Linked DNA regions of Homo sapiens: region 1 is linked to region 2. Evidence: fine-mapped expression QTL. A gene starts in region 2. The other region holds a variant in brackets. All regions are shown on one strand. Distances are from middle to middle. Region 1 holds the start of IL18BP (interleukin 18 binding protein). Region 2 holds the start of NUMA1 (nuclear mitotic apparatus protein 1).

What was found.
Region 1: its variant is fine-mapped to the expression of NUMA1 in whole blood (TOPMed, PIP above 0.99).

Annotation. Positions count from the first base shown.
Region 1 is chr11:71,993,327-72,002,308 of GRCh38, reverse strand. It overlaps RNF121 (ring finger protein 121), which reads right to left. Exons shown (of 9, transcript NM_018320.5): 7 at 7,457-7,590; 8 at 6,758-6,859; 9 at 4,712-6,114. The coding sequence ends at 5,994. It overlaps IL18BP (interleukin 18 binding protein), which reads right to left and starts at 3,400. Exons shown (of 6, transcript NM_001039660.2): 1 at 3,290-3,400; 2 at 2,297-2,382; 3 at 1,752-1,958; 4 at 985-1,108; 5 at 757-904; 6 at 1-525. The coding sequence starts at 2,324. The coding sequence ends at 448. The variant T/G (reference allele first, on the strand shown) is at 3,631.
Region 2 is chr11:72,075,676-72,084,657 of GRCh38, reverse strand. It overlaps NUMA1 (nuclear mitotic apparatus protein 1), which reads left to right and starts at 4,116. Exons shown (of 27, transcript NM_006185.4): 1 at 4,116-4,200. It overlaps LRTOMT (leucine rich transmembrane and O-methyltransferase domain containing), which reads right to left and starts at 3,808. Exons shown (of 9, transcript NM_001145310.4): 1 at 3,773-3,808. It overlaps LRRC51 (leucine rich repeat containing 51), which reads right to left and starts at 3,808. Exons shown (of 6, transcript NM_145309.6): 1 at 3,773-3,808. RefSeq lists enhancers at 2,795-3,749, 3,761-4,030, 3,750-4,705.

The sequences.
Region 1 (8,982 bases), 82 kb after region 2:
TTCCCCTGCTGGGGCGGTGAGGAAGACGGGACTAAATGAGCAGAGACATGGGAGTGGGAGCTGTCTGGGAAAAGCAAGAATAGTTGGGAGGCTTCCAGAAAGTCATGTGGGAAATGCAGGTAGGGCCCTGGAGTGCAAGGCTAAGGCATCAACAGTCTTGGTGGTTTCTGAGCAGTAGAGCAGTGTGAGGAGTAGGACGTTAGGAAGGCTAATGGATAGGTGGAGAGAGAATGGCAGGAGGAGGAGGCATTATAAGGAGGCTGTGATTTTCTAGGTAGGTGGGAATGGAGTTTGAATTTGGTGAGAGAAGGGACCCAAAGCAGAGAAGGAGGGGGTGTGTTGCGCATCCACGCAGCCTACAGGCAGTCAGGGACTGTTCACTCCAGGTAGACAGGTAGGACCCAAGCTCTGGTCAAGGTTGTGCTGCTGCTGGCCCTGTGCTGAGTCTTAACCCTGCTGCTGTGGACTGCTGTGGCTGGAGGGCAGGGCTTCTTGGGTGGGGGGCAAGGTTGCCCTCAGCCCAGCCTAGGGAAGTGAAGGCAGACAAGGATCAGGCCAAGGAAAGGAGGGACATCTCATCACTTTGCCCCAGGCTACACCTCCTCTGCCCAAGACCTAAGTTCCTTTTTGTCTGGCTGACCTTGAGGAATGCTGGGCATTAGTTCACAGGCTGCTCTGGCAGAGCCCACCCTTTCCTCCCCACATATGGAAGCAGAGCTCCTCCTGTTCCTGGAGGCCTCTCCTTGGGCTCCTCACCCAGAGCTGGGCCAGGACGACGTGACGCTGGACAACCTGTTCAGGGTCCACGAGCACACAGGAGAAGTTGGTGCTGTGCAGGGCAGGGGTCAGCTGCTCCAGCACCAAGGCCTTGCACAGCTGCGTACCTGTGCTCCCACGTTCCCGGCTGGAGCGGAAGGGAAGGAAAGGTCATGAGAAGGCCGCAGAAGGCCTCCTTCCCACCCACCTGGCTGCTGCGACCCTCACCTGGTGCTCCCCTCCCACAGTCGGCCTGGGAGGTGCTCAATGAAGGAACCATTGCCCAGCCAGTAGAGGATGCTGAAGTTGGGGAAGCGGCTGCAGGCCACACAGGATAAGCTCAGCGTTCCATCTAGGGACACAGGCAGCAGTTAGCTCTTCAGAAGAGCAGGCCCTTCCCCTACCCTGCTCTGCTGTGCCCTCCCTGCCAGCTCCCCCCAGTCCCCATGCATCTGGAACCTAGAGAACTGCTCTGCACACCACCTAGGTGGGAACGTCCGTTACAGAAGTGCAGTTGTCTCCGAGAGGCCCTAGCCCTAAACACGGGGAATGTGAGGAATGGTCCTTGGTTCACGTGATGAATCCTCTTCTGAACCTGTCTCCTCAGGATGACCTTTTCTAGTGCCCAGCCTCGGTGACTTGGGAGCCCAGGTGACAAAGGCAGTGCTGGATGGCTGCTGCTCCTCTGAGATGGCCAGAGGCCAGCAGGCTCTGGGTGGAGGGGCTGGCCTTGGGGTCCACTGCAACCAAGGCTCTGGGAGGTCCTGTGACCATTACTTATGTCTTGAGTTCTCTGTCCTATTTGATAGGGAGCATCTTGGGAGCTGCGCCAAGCCTGCACCCATGACACTGGGTTGGGGAGGGAGAATGGTGCGTGCTCAGCCCAGCTGGCTCAGCTGGTGGTACATGGGCAGAAGGGGACTGGCGCTCAGGAGTCAACCCGACCCTGGGAACCTCTGTGCCCATAGCCCACCCTCCACCACTGTGCTTCTTACTCAGTGGCACTTCCACCTCTGGCCAGGTCACTTCCAATGCTGGACACTGCTTAGCTGCTGGGAACACTGGGGGCTGGGAGGGGCAGGGGTCCTTTGTGCTTCTAACTGAGGCAGTGGCAGCTGTGGTGGTCTGCGAGACAGGTGTGGCTCTGACCAGGAGAGTGACGACGTGGGCACACAGGAGCAGGACCCACAAAGGGCTGAGGTCTGAGGAAAGGACAGTTACAGGTCAGCGGCTCTGGAGACAGAGTGGGCTGCCCGGGTAAGGATGTAACTCCAGCCCAGAGATGTCTGGGTTCTAGCCAGGGAATCAGAGCGGGAAGAGGGACCCCTCAGCACCCACCCCTTAGCCCTTTATTGAACAGAGTACAGAGAAGCTTTAGACTGGAGCCAGAGCTACAATATCTGCCCAGGTTCTTAAAGCAACAGCACCAGGTGCGCTGGGTGGTTTGCCTTGGAGTGAAGGCTCCGGGTTAGCCCATTGCTCCATTCTGTTCATAGACCTCACCCTACCCCGCCTGCCCATGCGTAGCCCCAAGGCCTACCTGGTGTCCAGTTGTGTCTCATGGTCATGATGCATGCGTCAGGAGCTGGTGAGCCTGGCTCTTTATCTGTGACAACGTCCTCTTCTCTGGTGAAAGGTGGGGGAGGAGAATGGTAAACCACTCCCGCTTTTTCTCAGTAGCTGGCTTTTCCTCAGTAGCTGGCTTCTCCTCCCGTAGCATAGCCTGGAGCTCTTTCAGCACTTAGAAACAGAGCTGGGGGGGTCAAGTGACAATCCTTCCCCACCCCAGCTCTCATGACCACAAATGGTTGTAAGATGCTTACCTAGTCCAATCTTACCCCTTCATTAGGGAAGGCAAAATTGAGACCCAAAGAGAGAATATGGACTCACCCAGTCACACAGGGAGGCAGTGCTCTCTTCAGCACCAGAGCTGCTTCTGGGAAGGGCAGGATGCCGAGCAATCCTTCTGGGAAAGCACTGCCCCGACCCTCTATTTCACTTTCACTTTTTAACCAGGGAATCTTGAGCAGCTGTGACACCTCTGCTTTAGCCAAAGTTCAGTGGCCAGAAACCTTCAGCTCCTGGGACTCCTACTCTCCAGAGGATACCAGACTGGGATCTCTAATCTACCCCCATGCCACCCCCAGGGTCACCTAGGGTATGAACTAGATGAGTCTCTCACAGATCAATTCTGTCCCGCCCAAGTGTCAGGACTTTGGTGTCCGCCTCCCCTCTTCACAGCCAGGTCTTTGTTTCCATATGAACAGGCATCTGCTTCCTCCTTCACCTTCACACTGACATTCAAGGGGACAACTTTCCTAGGCACTGGGGAACCCCAAGTTGGACCACTTCAGGCTCAATGCCATACCAGTCCGTCCACATCCTGGCCTTTCCCAGGCTACCCACTCCCCCAGCCACCAGCCCCAAGGTCGGCTACATCTCCCAGCACCCACCATCACACCCTCTGTCTCTCATCCTAGCCCCTCTGGCCAGAGCCACAGGTCTAGGTTCACTAGTAGTCCCAGACTCCTACCTGGCTCCTAAGAGGTCCTGAAGAGCCTTCCTTTCCAGAAGCTTCCCTCTAGGAGCTCCAAGACTCAAGTTAGCTGTGTCTAGCTGCGTGTGAACCCACCACAGGAAATACACCGAGAGCACTTCCTCCTTGTCTGTAGAACTCTCACGGCCAACCCAGGAACTGGCACACAAGCTCGAGAGCCAACCCTAACAGGAGGGAAGGGCAGGCACTTCCCGGGGAAGAGGCGGACTGGCTCAACACTGGCTCTGGCAACAGAGTCTACATCAGAATATGAATCTTGTCACTGATGGGACAAATGGCGCTGGGGCTGCGGGAGGGCCAGGATTCAGGGTGAGGCG[T/G]GTGAGGAACCTAGGATGCTAAATCTAAGGAGGTTTTCTCTCAGGGTCATGCAGTTATCCATGGAGGCAGAAAGACCAGGGCTGGGTGATCCAATGCATGCATATATTAAGTGTGGACAGGAGCTGCATGTCTGAGGTTTGTGACTCCTGTGATTGGGAGGGTGCAACGGCTGGTGACAGAGCCAGGGAGGCCCACAGATGGAACTGGGTTTGGTGGATGCATCAGGAACACAGTCAGCTGTGATCTCAAACTTCTTGTAGAAAAACCAGATTCATATTCCTAATTTAGACATAGGATACTACAAGTCACATCCTTCTTCTCTAGGTGTCTAGTTCATGTTTTTCCTCCTCTCAATTCCTCCCCCTACCTCCTGCCCCAGGGGCTTCTAGCATGTAAGATGCAGGAGAAATTCCTCCCAAGAACACCAGCATCTCCAGGAGTTAGGTCAGGAGGCAAGGCTGCCTGGGGTTTCTGAGAGAGACAGTCCAGTGGGGGATGGTAGGGAAAGATGACAGGACTCTGTCTTAGTGGAACCGAGACCAGAGTCAGGCCAAGGGGGGAGGTCAAGGGACTCAGAACTGTTACACATGAAAAGAGCTTTGGACAGCCTGGCCTCGGCTTCTCACCTGAGCCTGACAGGGGGGTGGGGGGAAAAAGTAAAAGGAAGGGTGATCCCTAGGTCCTCTGACCAGCCCCATTCCCCTCTCTGAGGAGGGGAACAGCCCCACAGGTGGCATAAGCAGCAGGGTACCATGGGAAGCCACAGCTGGGGAAGAGAAGCCGAGCCTGAGTGTGGTCCTCAGGAAGGCAGGTGGTGGCGGGACACTGTCCTCAGGCAGTGAGAACATAGAGCAACCTCAGTCTGAAGGCAGGCCCAATGATGCCCCAGGCCCCCAGGCCACAGGACAGGAGCCTGGCATTCCACCACTCCTAGGGATGTCAGCAGGGGAACAGCTGGGAACAGCAGAAAGGCAGGCCCAACCACCCCCAGACCCTCAGGTCTCCGATGGGGGTTAACAAAGGCAAGACACCCCTGGGGACCCCAGGGAAAGAGGTGGGAAGAAGAAAGCAAGATAAATGTTCAGCTTTCCAACCCAGCTCATGGAGCTTTATTCAGACGGGAGTGACAACATCCTGCTTCGTTCTTGCTGCCCTTGAAGGGGCAGGCCCTACTGAGCCATATTCCCTAGAAACCCAATGCCGAAGGCCCATGTTTGACCTCCCACTTTATTCAAGTCGCCTAGGACTAGGGCTGGGGCCTTCCTAGAAGCCCCCTCTCAGAACCTGTTCTCACCCACCCACCACTCCCGTTGTCAGGCCCAGGGAGGACCCATGAATGACAAAAATCATGTAGGGATATTCCCTGGACTGGGAATCCCCTGCCAGCTTCAAGGACATATCATCTGACACAGGGAGAAGCTGACATCTGTCATATTCTTCTGCCTCACGTACACACACACACACACACACACACGCATACGCACTCTTAGGCTTTCAAGAAGGAAGTGATGTGGCAGAGTGACCGCTGGCACGTGTCACCACTCCACTGAAGGATCCACTGAAGAATGAGCTTGCACAAGGGGCCGTCAGTCATGGCTGCCAACAATTGCCCCATGGCCCAACTATATGACCTCTATTCTTGGCTGACCACAGCCCTGCCCACGGGCGAGTATCCATGGTGCTGATTCTTCCAGTTGTCCCAAAACAAATCTTCAATGAATTCTGAGGCCCCAAGGCTTCCCTTGTTGGCCAAGTCACTGATAAGGTTCCACTTGCCTCAACCAGCCTATAGCTCTTGGACAGGGGGAGACAGAGTCAGACGCAACACCTGTCCTGTGTCCCAGACAGTGGGGGAGGGAGGACACCTGGGGCCTCAGTGCTCACCCGTGGCACAAGCCTGAGTACGTTAGCTCTTCTATACTAAGTGCACCAGGCTTGAGCCCCACACAGGGAAGAAGGGAGTGGGTGGGCTGAGGCCTTCAGCTACCTGGGAGCCCAGCAGTGTTCTCGGCCAGAGATGAGAAGGCTCCTTTAAACCAAAAATGTCATGGCTCTGCCCCCACCCTGCTTAGGCAGGGAGGGTGAAGCCTGGAGGGGGGCAATTCCTATGCTCCACAATAAAAAAAGGTTTTTTAAATATATTCATCAAAATAGTTTTCTTTTAAAAAGCCCCCCACTGCTGACAGCCCCACTGGCTGGCTCTCCATCATATCCCTCCCCAGTCCGACACAGCCAGAGGGGTCCTGAGTGGCCCAAGCACCCCTTTGAGTCTTTCCCACCCAGGAGGTCTTTGTGGGCAGGGAGGAGAGTGCCCTGAGGTCCATGGCGTGTGGGGTGGGTTTTCCACTGATGCTCTTCATCACTATTCCAGGCCCAGGATGTAGTTGATGCCTTGGACTACACCAATGATGACAGGCTGCCAGGCTACCAAGTATCGAAGCCAGTCCAGCAGTTGCCCATACATGACGTGAGGCCTCTCCCAGCTGTCAGTGTGTTAAAGAAAAGAGACTCTGTGCAAGAGCTGCCAGGAGTGATCTAGCATGGGTGGTGGGGCTCCCTGGGTCTGCCCCACTTTCCAGCTGCTCCACAGCCTAGAGGAATGGAGGCTGCTTTCTGGAAGGGCCCAGCCTCACTTCCTACTCAGGCAGCCCTCCCAACTTTGCCCTCCCCCTCCTCTTCCTCCTCACAGCCTGTCTGTTGGGGTAAAGAGCTGAATGCAGAGAAGGTGGGAGGCAGATAGAGGGGACTGGTACTGGAGGCAGGGCAGCCCTGAGAGAGGTATAGAGATAAATCCTAGTTCCCCATGACTAACATGCAGGGAGGGCCTCCTGTAACACCTTCTCTAAGAAGGAACTGCCAGTGTAAGATAACACAGCCTGAGGCTGACACAAGTCTATCTATCCGTGACAATGGCTGCAAGGAGGCTGAGAATAGGCAATAATCCTAGAATAGGGAAACTGGGGTTGTATCATGGGGGCAGGACTAGCAGCTCAGCTTCCCACCATGGTTTGACATGTTCTGGTTGGGGGCAGAAGTGAGGGCCCCAGGAGGACCCAAATGCAGGTCACACTGGCCAGTACTTTCTTCCCACAGCCCACTCCCAACAACGACCCCAATAAAGGATACGGATTGCTGAACATCCTCTTGAGGTCTACCTTCTCTTTGCAGTAGGGACACGTTTGCTTCTTTCCCACGATGCACCAGCCACGGATGCAGAACTCGTGGAAGCTGAGCACCGCTGGTCAAGGGAAATGGTGAGAGCCAGGGCGGCACTCCAGCCCCAGACAGTCTTTGAAAGGTTCAAATCCTGCCTTCGCTCTTTATCAGCTCTGTAATGTTGGGCAAGTCCCTGTGTCTGAACCTGTTTCCTCACATGTGAAGTAAGGATAATGATCCCTATCTCACAAGACTGTTATGGGGCAAAATGGAGACAATACATGGCTTTCCCAACATAGGCAGAGAATGGGAGCTGGGTAAATACATGATAAATATTACAAGTGTTATTCAGAACAGAGGATGATGCTAAACTGAGGGATCCCATTAGAGGGTCCTCTTCCCCTGTGACTGGTCAGATCTCAGGTCTGCTAGCACAGCCTCACTAGCTGCAGCCTCAGGTTCCTCTCAGACCCAGCCAGGTTGTAACCACTGTTTACCTAAGAGTGGCTCTGATCTGTGGGAAAGGGTAGGGAAGGTGGCCCTCTTGTGGCTCTCCTACACTCAAGGGTCTGGACAGCATGCCTAGGGTCATGACCACCCTCTTTCTCTCTCTCACTACAGTGTGCAGATTGCAGGAGAGATGTGGCCCAGGAGCTCGAGGCAGGATACACATGATTGCAGGACAGCCTATACGTGTTCTCAATGATCCCCTCTTCACTGACGTCCACAAAGATCTGCTGCCCACACACAGCACACACACTGTCTGAAAGATGTTTGGTAGGCATGCCCGACTCGCTGTAGAACTGAAGGAGAATAGCAGGAAGGAAAGATAGGAAAAGATGTGAGAAGCAGCCAAAGTAGGAAGCTCCACAGAGACCTCAGGCCTTCTAGAGAAGAGGCACAGTGGCAGCGGGAGGCCCAGAGTTAGAGGACATCTTTTTTTTTTTAAACTGTTTAGAAAAGGTAATCTTTTACAAGTCAAATCGACCTCATCTTTGCTGGGCAGATGGGGAGAAGTGACCAGACTAGAGACAGTTGGGAAGTTAGATGTAACAGAACCTATAAACTGGGCTGGATCAGCACCAAAGGATAAGGGGAAGGGGAGGGAGAAGGACTTGGGGCTGGTGATCAAAAGCTGTGTCAGGCAAGCCATTCTGTCGCCAGACTATGGTTCCACCAGAAATGGACAACAATATTCTCCAACATTTAAAACAGTGAAATATTAAGTGCCATGTTGGTTTGGTGACAAGGGCATTCTCAGACATTTGTGGCAGCAGCAAAAGGGGTTCAAGCCTTTCAGATAGGATTTAGCATGGTATCTCAAATTGTTGCACCTTTTGACCCATTAATTTCACTTCAAGGAATTTAAAGAAATAAGAGGAGGCTGGGCGCGGTGGCTGACGCCTGTAACCCCAGCACTTTGGGAGGCCAAGGAGGGCGGATCACGAGGTCAGGAGATCGAGAGCATCCTAACTAACACAGTGAAACCCCGTCTCTACTAAAAATACAAAAAATTAGCCAGGCATGGTGGGGGGCGCCTGTAGTCCCAGCTACTCAGGAGGCTGAGGCAGGAGAATGGCGTGAACCCGGGAGGCAGAGCTTGCAGTGAGCCGAGATCGCACCACTGCACTCCAGCCTGGGCAACAGACCGAGACTCCATCTCAAAAAAAAAAAAAAAAAGAGGAAGTGTCAAAGAAGCTTCATGAATACAGATATTCACTTAAGCATTATCATAATTAAGAAAGCAAAGAGTTTGGCATGTCCTCAAAAAGTTAAACATAAAATTACCAAATGACCAAGCAATTCCATTCTCGGTATAAACCCAAAAGATATGAAACTAGGGACTAAACACACTTAAACGCCAGTGCTCACAGCGTTACTCACAGTAGCCAAAAAGTGGAAACAACTCAAGTGCCTATCCACAGATGAATGAATAAACCAAATGCGGTGTCACACACAATGGAATACTATTCAGCCATATAAAGGAATGATACATTCTATACATGGATGAACTCTGAAAACACTACGCTAAGTGAAAAAAGCCAAAGGGACAAATATTGTATGATTCCATTTACATGAAATATCTACAATAGGCATGTTCACAGAGATGGAAAGTATATTAGAGGTAAACCAGGGCTGTGGGAAGGGGTAATGAGTTACTGCTTAATGGGCAGAGTTTCTGTTTGGGATGAAGA
Region 2 (8,982 bases):
GCCATGTTGCTTAGGCTGGTCTCAAACTCCTGGGCTCAAGCTATTCACTCACCTTGGCCTCCCAAAGTGCTGGGATTACAGGTGTAAGCCACTGTGCCCAGCCTAGATTATGTATATTTTTAAATAAACAATATTCCTTTGTAAACCTATTTTTTAATTTTCAAATTGTTGTAGACTATTACCCTTTTTAATAGTTGCAAAGTATTTTATACTATGTATCGTACTTTAATGTTATTCACTTAATTTATTTAACCAATCCCAAGTTGACAGAAAACTGTTTTCAGTTTTGGGAAATTACTAACATTTGGAATTTGATTTGTTGCTAGCCTATTCCTGCCCTCTCTCAGGCAAGTTGCAACATGATAACACAGGAAGCTTTGAGGAATAATCACATAAATCTGATAGGAGATTCAACAGCCTGGCCCGAGAGTTTCTGATGATGGACTGATGGTGGAAAAAAAATCAAAGGCTGCTATGAAAAATCTGCCACATATTTAGCCAGGCATGGCAGCTCACGCCTATAGTCCCAGCTACTTGGGAAGCTGAGGTAGGAGTATGGCTCAAGCCCAGGAGTTCGAGGCTGCAGTGAGCTATGACTGTGCCACTGCACTCCAGTCTGGGCAACAGAGCGAGACCCTGTCAAAAGAAAAAGAAGAAAAATCTGCCACATAATCTAATATATTCTGGGAGGTTATATTCCCAGGTGCCAAAAGGAGGACCAAGATTCAACCTGGCTCCTGTCCACCCCCCTCTACTACCATCTCATCCTCAACTCCAATTCTGCAGTCTAGCCAAATGCAACCACTCACCATAAGTTCCCTGCACCTGCCACTGGGCCTCTAAGTGGAACAGTGTCTCCTTCCAGCTCTGTCTGCTTGGAATATAGTTTTTCTCTCCTCCTTTTGCTTTGCTAATTCTTATTTCAGGGCTCAGATCAGGTTTCAACTTTTCTGAGAAGTCTACCTTTATCCTCAAATCTGTAATTGTAGTGCTATGATTGCCATGGTAGCACTCGTAACACTGTAATTATCTGCTTACTATCTGTATGTCCATAAACACCAGCAGGGCAGAAACCATATTTTTTCTTACAGTTGTATCTCATAGTGCCGGCAAGTAGTAGGTGCTTAACAAACACATTAAAAATTGCAACTAAATAATACTACAAAGGAGAGGGCCATGAGGTTGCTGTAATTGAGGGATCTGACCTGGTCTGAACAGTCTACAGGAAGACATTCCTGAAGAAGTGACTGAGAGAAATCTAAAGGATAAGTACAAATTAACTTATGGGGTAGGGGGTGGTGTGGAATGAGCATTCCAGGCAGATGTGACTGCTATATGCAAAGGTTCTATGGTGGAAGGGTACTTGGAAATTTTGAAGACCTTAAAGGTTATATAACTGAAGGGGAGAGAAGGATGAATATGTATGGTTAGACTGGAGGCTGGAGAGATGGGAGCAATAGGAAACCACATAGTATTAATATTAAATGGGGGCTGGCTGGGCGTGGCGGCTCACGCCTGTAATCTCAGCACTTTGGGAGGCCAAGGTGGGCAGATCACCTGAGGTCGGGAGTTCGAGACCAGCCTGACCAACATGGAGAAACCCCGTCTCTACTAAAAATATAAAATTAGCCGGGTGTGGTGGCGCATGCCTGTAATCCCAGTTACCTGGGAGGCTGAGACAGGAGAATTGCTTGAAACCGGGAGGTGGAGGTTGCTGTGAGCCGAGATTGCGCCATTGCACTCCAGCCTGGGCAGCAAGAGCGAAACTCTGTCTCAAAAAGAAAAAAAAAAAATTGGGGGTGGGGTAGAGAGTGAACAGTATCAGCTTTGCATTTTGAAGGATCACTCTGGTTGCAGTGCGCAAATATGGCTGGGAGGGAAGGCAGGAAGGATGTGATGGTAGCTAGGACCTATATAAAAGATATTCAGGAAGTAAAGCTGATAAGACTTAGTGATAGATGGGAAATGGAAGAGGTATTAAGTAAATGGAAGAGGTACTAACTTGGGTTTTGGGCTTGGGTATATTGTGGATAAAGGTAGGAGCACTGGAAGAGATCCAGGCTTGGAGGAAAAGGTTGGGATACACAGAGATTGTTTCAATTTCAGAAATGTAGAGTTTGGGTTGCCTTTGAGGTATCCTAAAGGAGATGTTGAGGCAATTGGCTATATAGATCTGGAGCTTAGAGATGAGGGCTGGGCTTGAGATACACACTTGTGTACATTTGCATACAGGTGGAAAATGAAGTTGTGGGTGTGGAGGGGTACCCAAGAAGAGAATATAGAGTGCAGTGGCAAGAGGGCGTAGGACCAAACCTGGGAGAACTTTAAGGTAGTAAGTGGACCAGTCAGGGCCAGCTAGTCACCAGCTAGAAACCAGCTAATCATGGTCACTTCAGACATGGGTGCTGTGTTAGCCCTTCTGTTTCCTGTTTAGTTAAAAATGTTCAAGTCTCATTGTCTTAGTCTCTCTAGTTCCTTTTCCCCATTAAAAGTTTCAGGGGAGGATCTGAAATTCATTCCAGCTGAAGTGTAAATAATACAAAGTAGGCCACACAGGTTCCTTTTCCCTGGGGCAGTTTAACTTGTTCCTTGGAACAAGTCCTTCCGCTATAGAGGCAGTAGGCTGAAGCTAAAGAGACTTAGCTGGAAGTCGGAGAACTGGAGTCTAGTTCTAGCTCTGTCACTAATTTGGTGTGTGGCCTTGGGCAAGTCCCTTTTCTCTGGGTTTCAGTTTTCCAATCTGTGAAATGAAGATAAATATCCTTGACTCACAGAGCTGTTAAGAGTATCAAAAGAGAGACTGTGAAAGCACTGGGTAGGTTACTAAATGTAATAGATCTGTCGTGAGTACTAAAAAAAATGAAGCTCTAACTGTAGAGCTTTGAGTAGCGGACCACGGAGAAGGTGTGGGGAGAAAAGGGAATCTGGGGACAGATTGAGAAGGGGTTTTACTCCTTGGAAGAAGAAGGAATGAGGCACTTCACGCCCCAGGAAGTTTCCTACATCTCTAGAATTAGGGTAGCGACTGCGATTTACTCAATCTAATGCTAACCGCATGTCTTGGAAGAGGGTCTCAGTTCCTCAGAGGAAAACCAACCCCATTTCTGAGGGCGTTTCTGATCTCCCAGGTTATGCCTGGAACTTGAAGCATCCGATTTTGGGAGCTTTATGTTTGCGTTGGGGGCGGGGTTCGTTGTTTTGTTTTGTTTTTGTTTTGTTTCGTTTTGTTTTGTTTTGAGATGGAGGTATCGCTCTATAGCCCAGGCTGGAGTGTAGTTGCGTGATCACGGCTCACTGCAGCTTCAATCTCCGGGCTCAAGCGATCCTTCTACCTCAGCCTCCCTAGTAGCTGGGGCCACTGGAGCGCGCCACCAAGCCCGGCTAATTTTTTTATGTTTTTGGTAGAGACAGGGTTCGCCATGTTTCTCAGGCTGGTCTCGAACTCCTGGCCTTAAGTGGTCCGCCCGCCTTGGTCTCCCAGTGTTGGGATTACAGGCGTGAGCCACCGCTCCCGGCCCTGGGGGTGGTTCTTAAGCATCCCCAAATCTGTATGGATATATATCTCAACGCCTATCCCTCCCTCTGCTCCCCCTCGCCCAGTCTGTCCCATGTGAGTGTTGTATCTTGTTCGCTGTGAAAGGTGATGAGGGTCGGTGGGGGAAATCTCAGATCCCCGAGCAGGAAGGTTCTTAGTCGTTCTGTGAGTGCCCCTCCCTTCTCCATAGATCTCTTGTCCCCTAGAACGGGTTTCCTGTTTTCCCGCCCGACTCACCCGCAGTCGCTTCCTCTCCAGTCTTGGCGTCCCACTGCCTCAGGGTTACTCAGAGCAACTCCATGGCAACTGCTTTCGTCACCACAACCCGGCAGGCGCCATAAGTACTGACGCGATGCTTACCGGGACCTTCAGTTTGTCAGGGGCGGGGCTTCAAGGCCGCGGGTGACGCTGGGATTTGTAGTTCTCTTTGCCTTCAAGTACAGGCCGGGGTCCGGAAGCGGTGATACCCCTTCTCTTTCCCAGTGGCCCTCAAACTTCCTTTTCCCGGGTCCTTAAGCGGGCCCCGCCGACAGAGGCCAATCAGAGGGCAGCGCGAGGGGGCGGGGCCATAGTTTAAACTAATTGTGCGCTCACAGCGCTGGCGCGAGCCCACGAAGAGGTACGATTCCGGAGAATCGCGAGGCAGAGCGGGAGCGCGCAGCCAGGTAACCGGCGCGGGCCCGCGTTTGGCGTGCGGCCTGGGCACCCCTGCGGGTGCTCAGGCCTAAAAGGGGTGCTGGAGAGGCCGCTGCGAGCGGAAGGCCTCCTCCATAACCGAGTCCGAAAGGGCAGAATCTATGGGGGTAAGGTTTGTGAGGAGAGGCGCCTGAGAGGGAGGAGCCGGGGGGGGGGGGGGTGCCTTAAAGGGGAGGGTCTGTTTGGGGGCGTGTCTGTGGAATTAAATCTGAAGGTGACTGGGGTCGGGGGTATAGGGCAAGTTCCCGAAAGGCTTGTAAGCGAGGGGTCGGGTCCTGGAAAGTCTTTGCCTTTTATCGTTAACAATAGCAGTAGTTATGGTAGTGCAGTAGTCAGCATTTTCTGAGCTACACCGTCCACAATGACCTGCCAAATGTTTATCTTTTTAATCTTCTAACCACCTGTTATACTTTAAAGATGGGGAGCCTGAGGTTTATAATGTTTAGCTTGGCCCGGGTTACGTAGCCAGTGCGAGGTTGGCTCTACTTTGGGTTTATGGGTTGGGCATAAATGGGGACGGGGAAGGTGCTTTGTGGGGGCGCGCGTTGTCTTGGACTGGTCAGTGTATTTTGAGCCTCACTTTTCATATATGTAAACAATGACCTTACCTGCCTTACCTACTTCCTGGGGTGGTTGTCCTGGTCAAAACAGGTTAAGTCTTTTTTTTTTTTTTTTTTAATTTTTGTTTGTTTTTGTTTTTCATCCATGGACTCTCACAGATAACATGTTTCATACACGCACCTCGGAGAGTACAAATTTATGACTATAAGTGGTGTGACTGTGTGAAGATTGTGGGTGGGCGGGAGCCCACTGGGTTGATGCTGCCGCCTCTGGGTACTCTCTTTTGCTTACCTCTGAGTTAGCACTTGTCATTTTTTTTTTTTTTTGAGACGGAGTCTCGCCCTATCGCCCAGGCCGGAGTGCAGTGGCGCGATCTCGGCTCACTGCAACCTCTGCCACCCGGGTTCAAACAGTTCCCTGCCTCAGCCTCCCGAGTAGCTGGGATTACAGGCGCCCGCTACCACACCCGGCTAACTTTTGTATTTTTAGTAGACACAGGGTTTCACCATCTTGGCCAGGCCGGTCTTGAACTCTTGACCTCGTGATCCGCCCGCCTCGGCTTCCCAAAGTGCTTGGGATTACAGGCGTGAGCCATCACGCCCGGCCTGCCATCTGGTATTTTAAAAGTCTGCGTGTTTGTCTGCCCTTCTAGATAACGAGAGACTTTTTCGTCACTGTATCCTAATGGCTAGGCAGGATTTGCGACATGTAATGGGAATAAATGTATGCTTTGGAATAATTTCTTGGGCTGAAAGGGCACAGGAATTTCGCTTTCCCGTTTTCATTTAGTGGCATTTGAACCTCAGTATTAAGCTGTCCTCTTTACTGGAATGGCACTCCCTCTTGAAAACGTGATGATATTTTCTTGCTTTAATACATAATTCCCTCTCTCTAGTATCTGTTGCCTGGTTCTATGTTTCCAAACTTCTGGGTTGTCTGGTCGTTAAAGCTTTAATGGTAAGGGAGTTGGGCCTCTCTGCTTTGTGGAGATCTTTACTGCTGTGAATATATGGGAACCTGGGGCGAACATGAGGATCATGTAAGGTAGCTTTCTGTCAGCACAGATGGGTTTATGTTTCCTCAGTCCCTCTTTCTGTGTGGTATTTTCTTCTTTAGAGGAAGAACCACATACTTTTTTGTGAAAGCTTCCAAAGTATTCTTTTCGTAGCCTAAGTTCTAGCAAGGGATGACTAATTGTAATGTCTAAGCTCTTAGTTCACAGCGAAAAGCGGTACATTCCAAAAGCTTAAAGATCTTACCTGAAAGCTCGTTAAGAAACGTAGAATTCTTTTTTACATGTGGAACATGGAAGTGGGAAGAATGCCTTGAAATAAGACTTGAATTCTAGAACTTTTAGGATGAGGGCAAAGCCCTGCTCAGGTGGCTGAACAGAGCTGATCAGGGGCTGTTTGGACAGCTGTGTCTAATTGATAAAACTATGATCAGAAGATATTAGGTTTGTGCAAAAGTAATTGCAGTTATTGCCATTGAAAGTAATGGCAAAAACCACAGTTACTTTTGCATTAACCTAATATATGGTGTGGTCATTTAATTTAGCCTCTTACCCAGTGTACACTAAACATACCAAAAGGTGTTGTCCAGACTCAAAATGAGTACTTTCTAGAATGAGATCATTCCCAAAGTCAATCCATCTCTAAGCTGAACAATTCTAATTGATAATTATTATTTTGTAGCTGGGCATGGTGGCTTGCCCTGTCATCCCAACTACTCTGGAGGCTGAGGCAGGAGGAGCAGGCGGGAGAATGGCTTGAGCCCAGGAGTTCTTAGCTAGCCTGGGCAACAGAGTGAGACCCCAACACAATTAAAATATGTTTATTGTTTTGTATTGTTAGTGATTATTTCATTTTACCCATGTATGTCTACTGTTTGCTTTTTCACTATTTTTCCTTGCATTTTATTCCTTCCTTTTTTATTGCATAGATACATACATCCTTCAGATGTTTGTCCAGTGGGAATCTGTTAGTGGTAAACACTGTCTTCATTTAAAAAATCTTTATTTCACTTTCAGTTTTTTGTTTTTTTTTTTTTTTTGAGATGGAGTCTCACTCTGTTGCCCAGGCTGGAGTGCAGTGGCACAGTCTCGGCTCACTGCAAGCTCCGCCTCCCAGGTTCACACCATTCTCCTGCCTCAGCCTCCCGAGTAGCTGGGACTACAGGCGCCCGCAACCACGCCTGGCTAATTTTTTGTATTTTTAGTAGAGACAGGGTTTCATTGTGTTAGCCATGATGGTCTCGATCCCCTGACCTTGTGATCCTCCCGCCTCGGCCTCTCAGAGTGCTGGGATTATAGGCATGAGCCACTGTGCCCAGCTCACTTTCAGTCTTGATTGGTAGTTTAGCTGGGTACTAGGCTTCCAATTATTGTCTCTTAGCACTTTGAAAGTGTTTTTTCATTGAAATTCTGGCTTTTTGTTGTTACTCTTGAGAACTATGCTTGCAAATTAACTTATTTTATTGTGGGTAACCTGTCTTTCTTTCTGTTTGTTTTTAAGATCTTCTTTGCTGTCATTTGTGTTCTGTACTTCCATTACATGGTGTGAATTTAATTTTCTTAAATCACTATATACTGGGGGCATATAGTAATTCCTTAATCTGAAATTTCATATCTTTTCACTAATTGTGTAAAAATTCCCAATCATTACCTCTTTACCTCTCTCAGATCTCATGCGTAACTTATGTTGAACTTCCTCATTCTGTCGTCTACATCTTATTCTTTCTTTCATAATTTCCATTTCTATCTTTCTGTGTTAACTTCTGGATAATTTCCTTATATCTATCTTCTAGTATACTAGTTTACTCTTCAGCTAGGTCTAATTTGTTTTTTGAATTCTTATTTTTATTAGCTAACTTTTTCATTTATTAGAAGTGCTCTTTGGTTCATTTTCAAATCTGCTTGTTTTTCGTGATCTTGTTTTTGTCTCATGTTTTCAATTTTGTGTCTGTAATAATTTTCAAGAAAGTTGAGTTTTGGCAGATGTCTACACCTGTAAACAGCAGCCATAATCAAGATACAGAGGATTTCTCTCACCCCCAAAAGATTTCTCATGCTTTTTTTTTTTTAAGATGGATTTTACTCTTATTCTCCAGGCTGGAGTCCAGTGGTGCAATCTCGGCTCCCTGCAACCTCTGCCTCCTGGGTTCAAGCGATTCTCCTGCCTCAGCCTCCTGAGTAGCTGGGATTACAGGCATGCACCACCATGCCCAGCTAATTTTGTATTTTTAATAGAAATGGGGTTTCACCATGTTGGTCAGGCTGATCTTGAACTGCCAACCTCAGGTAATCTGCCCTCCTCGGCCTCCCAAAGTGCTGGGATTACAGGCGTGAGCCACCGTGCCCGGCTCTCATACTTCTTTACAGTCCGTTTTTCCTTTCACCCTGATACCAGGAACCACTGATCGTTTGTTTGTTTTTCACTACATATTAATGTCTGCTTCCTAGAATTTTATTTTATTTTATTTTATTTTTTGAGATAGGATCTGTCTGGCTTTGTTGCCCAGGTTGGAGTGCAGTTGCAGGATCTTGGCTCACTGCAACCTCTGCCTCCTGGGCTCAAGCAGTCCGCCCACCTCAGCCTCCCAAGTAGCTGGGACTACAGGTGCACACCACCATACCCGGCAAATTTTTATATTTTCTGTAGAGACAGGGTTTTGCCATGTTGCCCGGGCTGGTCTCGAACTCCTGGGCTCAAGCAATCCACCCACCTCAGCCTCCCAATGTGCTGGGATTACTGGCGTGAGCCACTTCACCCAGCCTGTTTTGAATTCCTAGACGGTTTTTCCCTCCTTTCTCACTAGGTGAGCAAGGCAAGTTTTTTATTTCTCTCTGGACAGATTTTTTTTCCTAGTCTATTATCTTACTGAGTATAAACTTAAGAATCTCAGCCTCTGCACAGGGATCTCAGTGCCTTTTGTGGACTCAAGATCTGTCTTCTGAACCTATGAGGGTGTTACAAATTCCATACACGGCTAGGACAGCTATGTCATCAGCTCGCTAATCCTCCTCACTAATTTGTTTCTGGTTCCTGGGGATTTTTCTTACTTTCTTGAGAGCTCAGTTTATCTATATGTCAGTTCAGATCCAATCAGCAAAACAGAAACCACACAATAGAGTGAACTCCATAAAGGAGATTGATTTAAACCCTTGGTGGAGGGCTGAAAAAGCAGAAAGG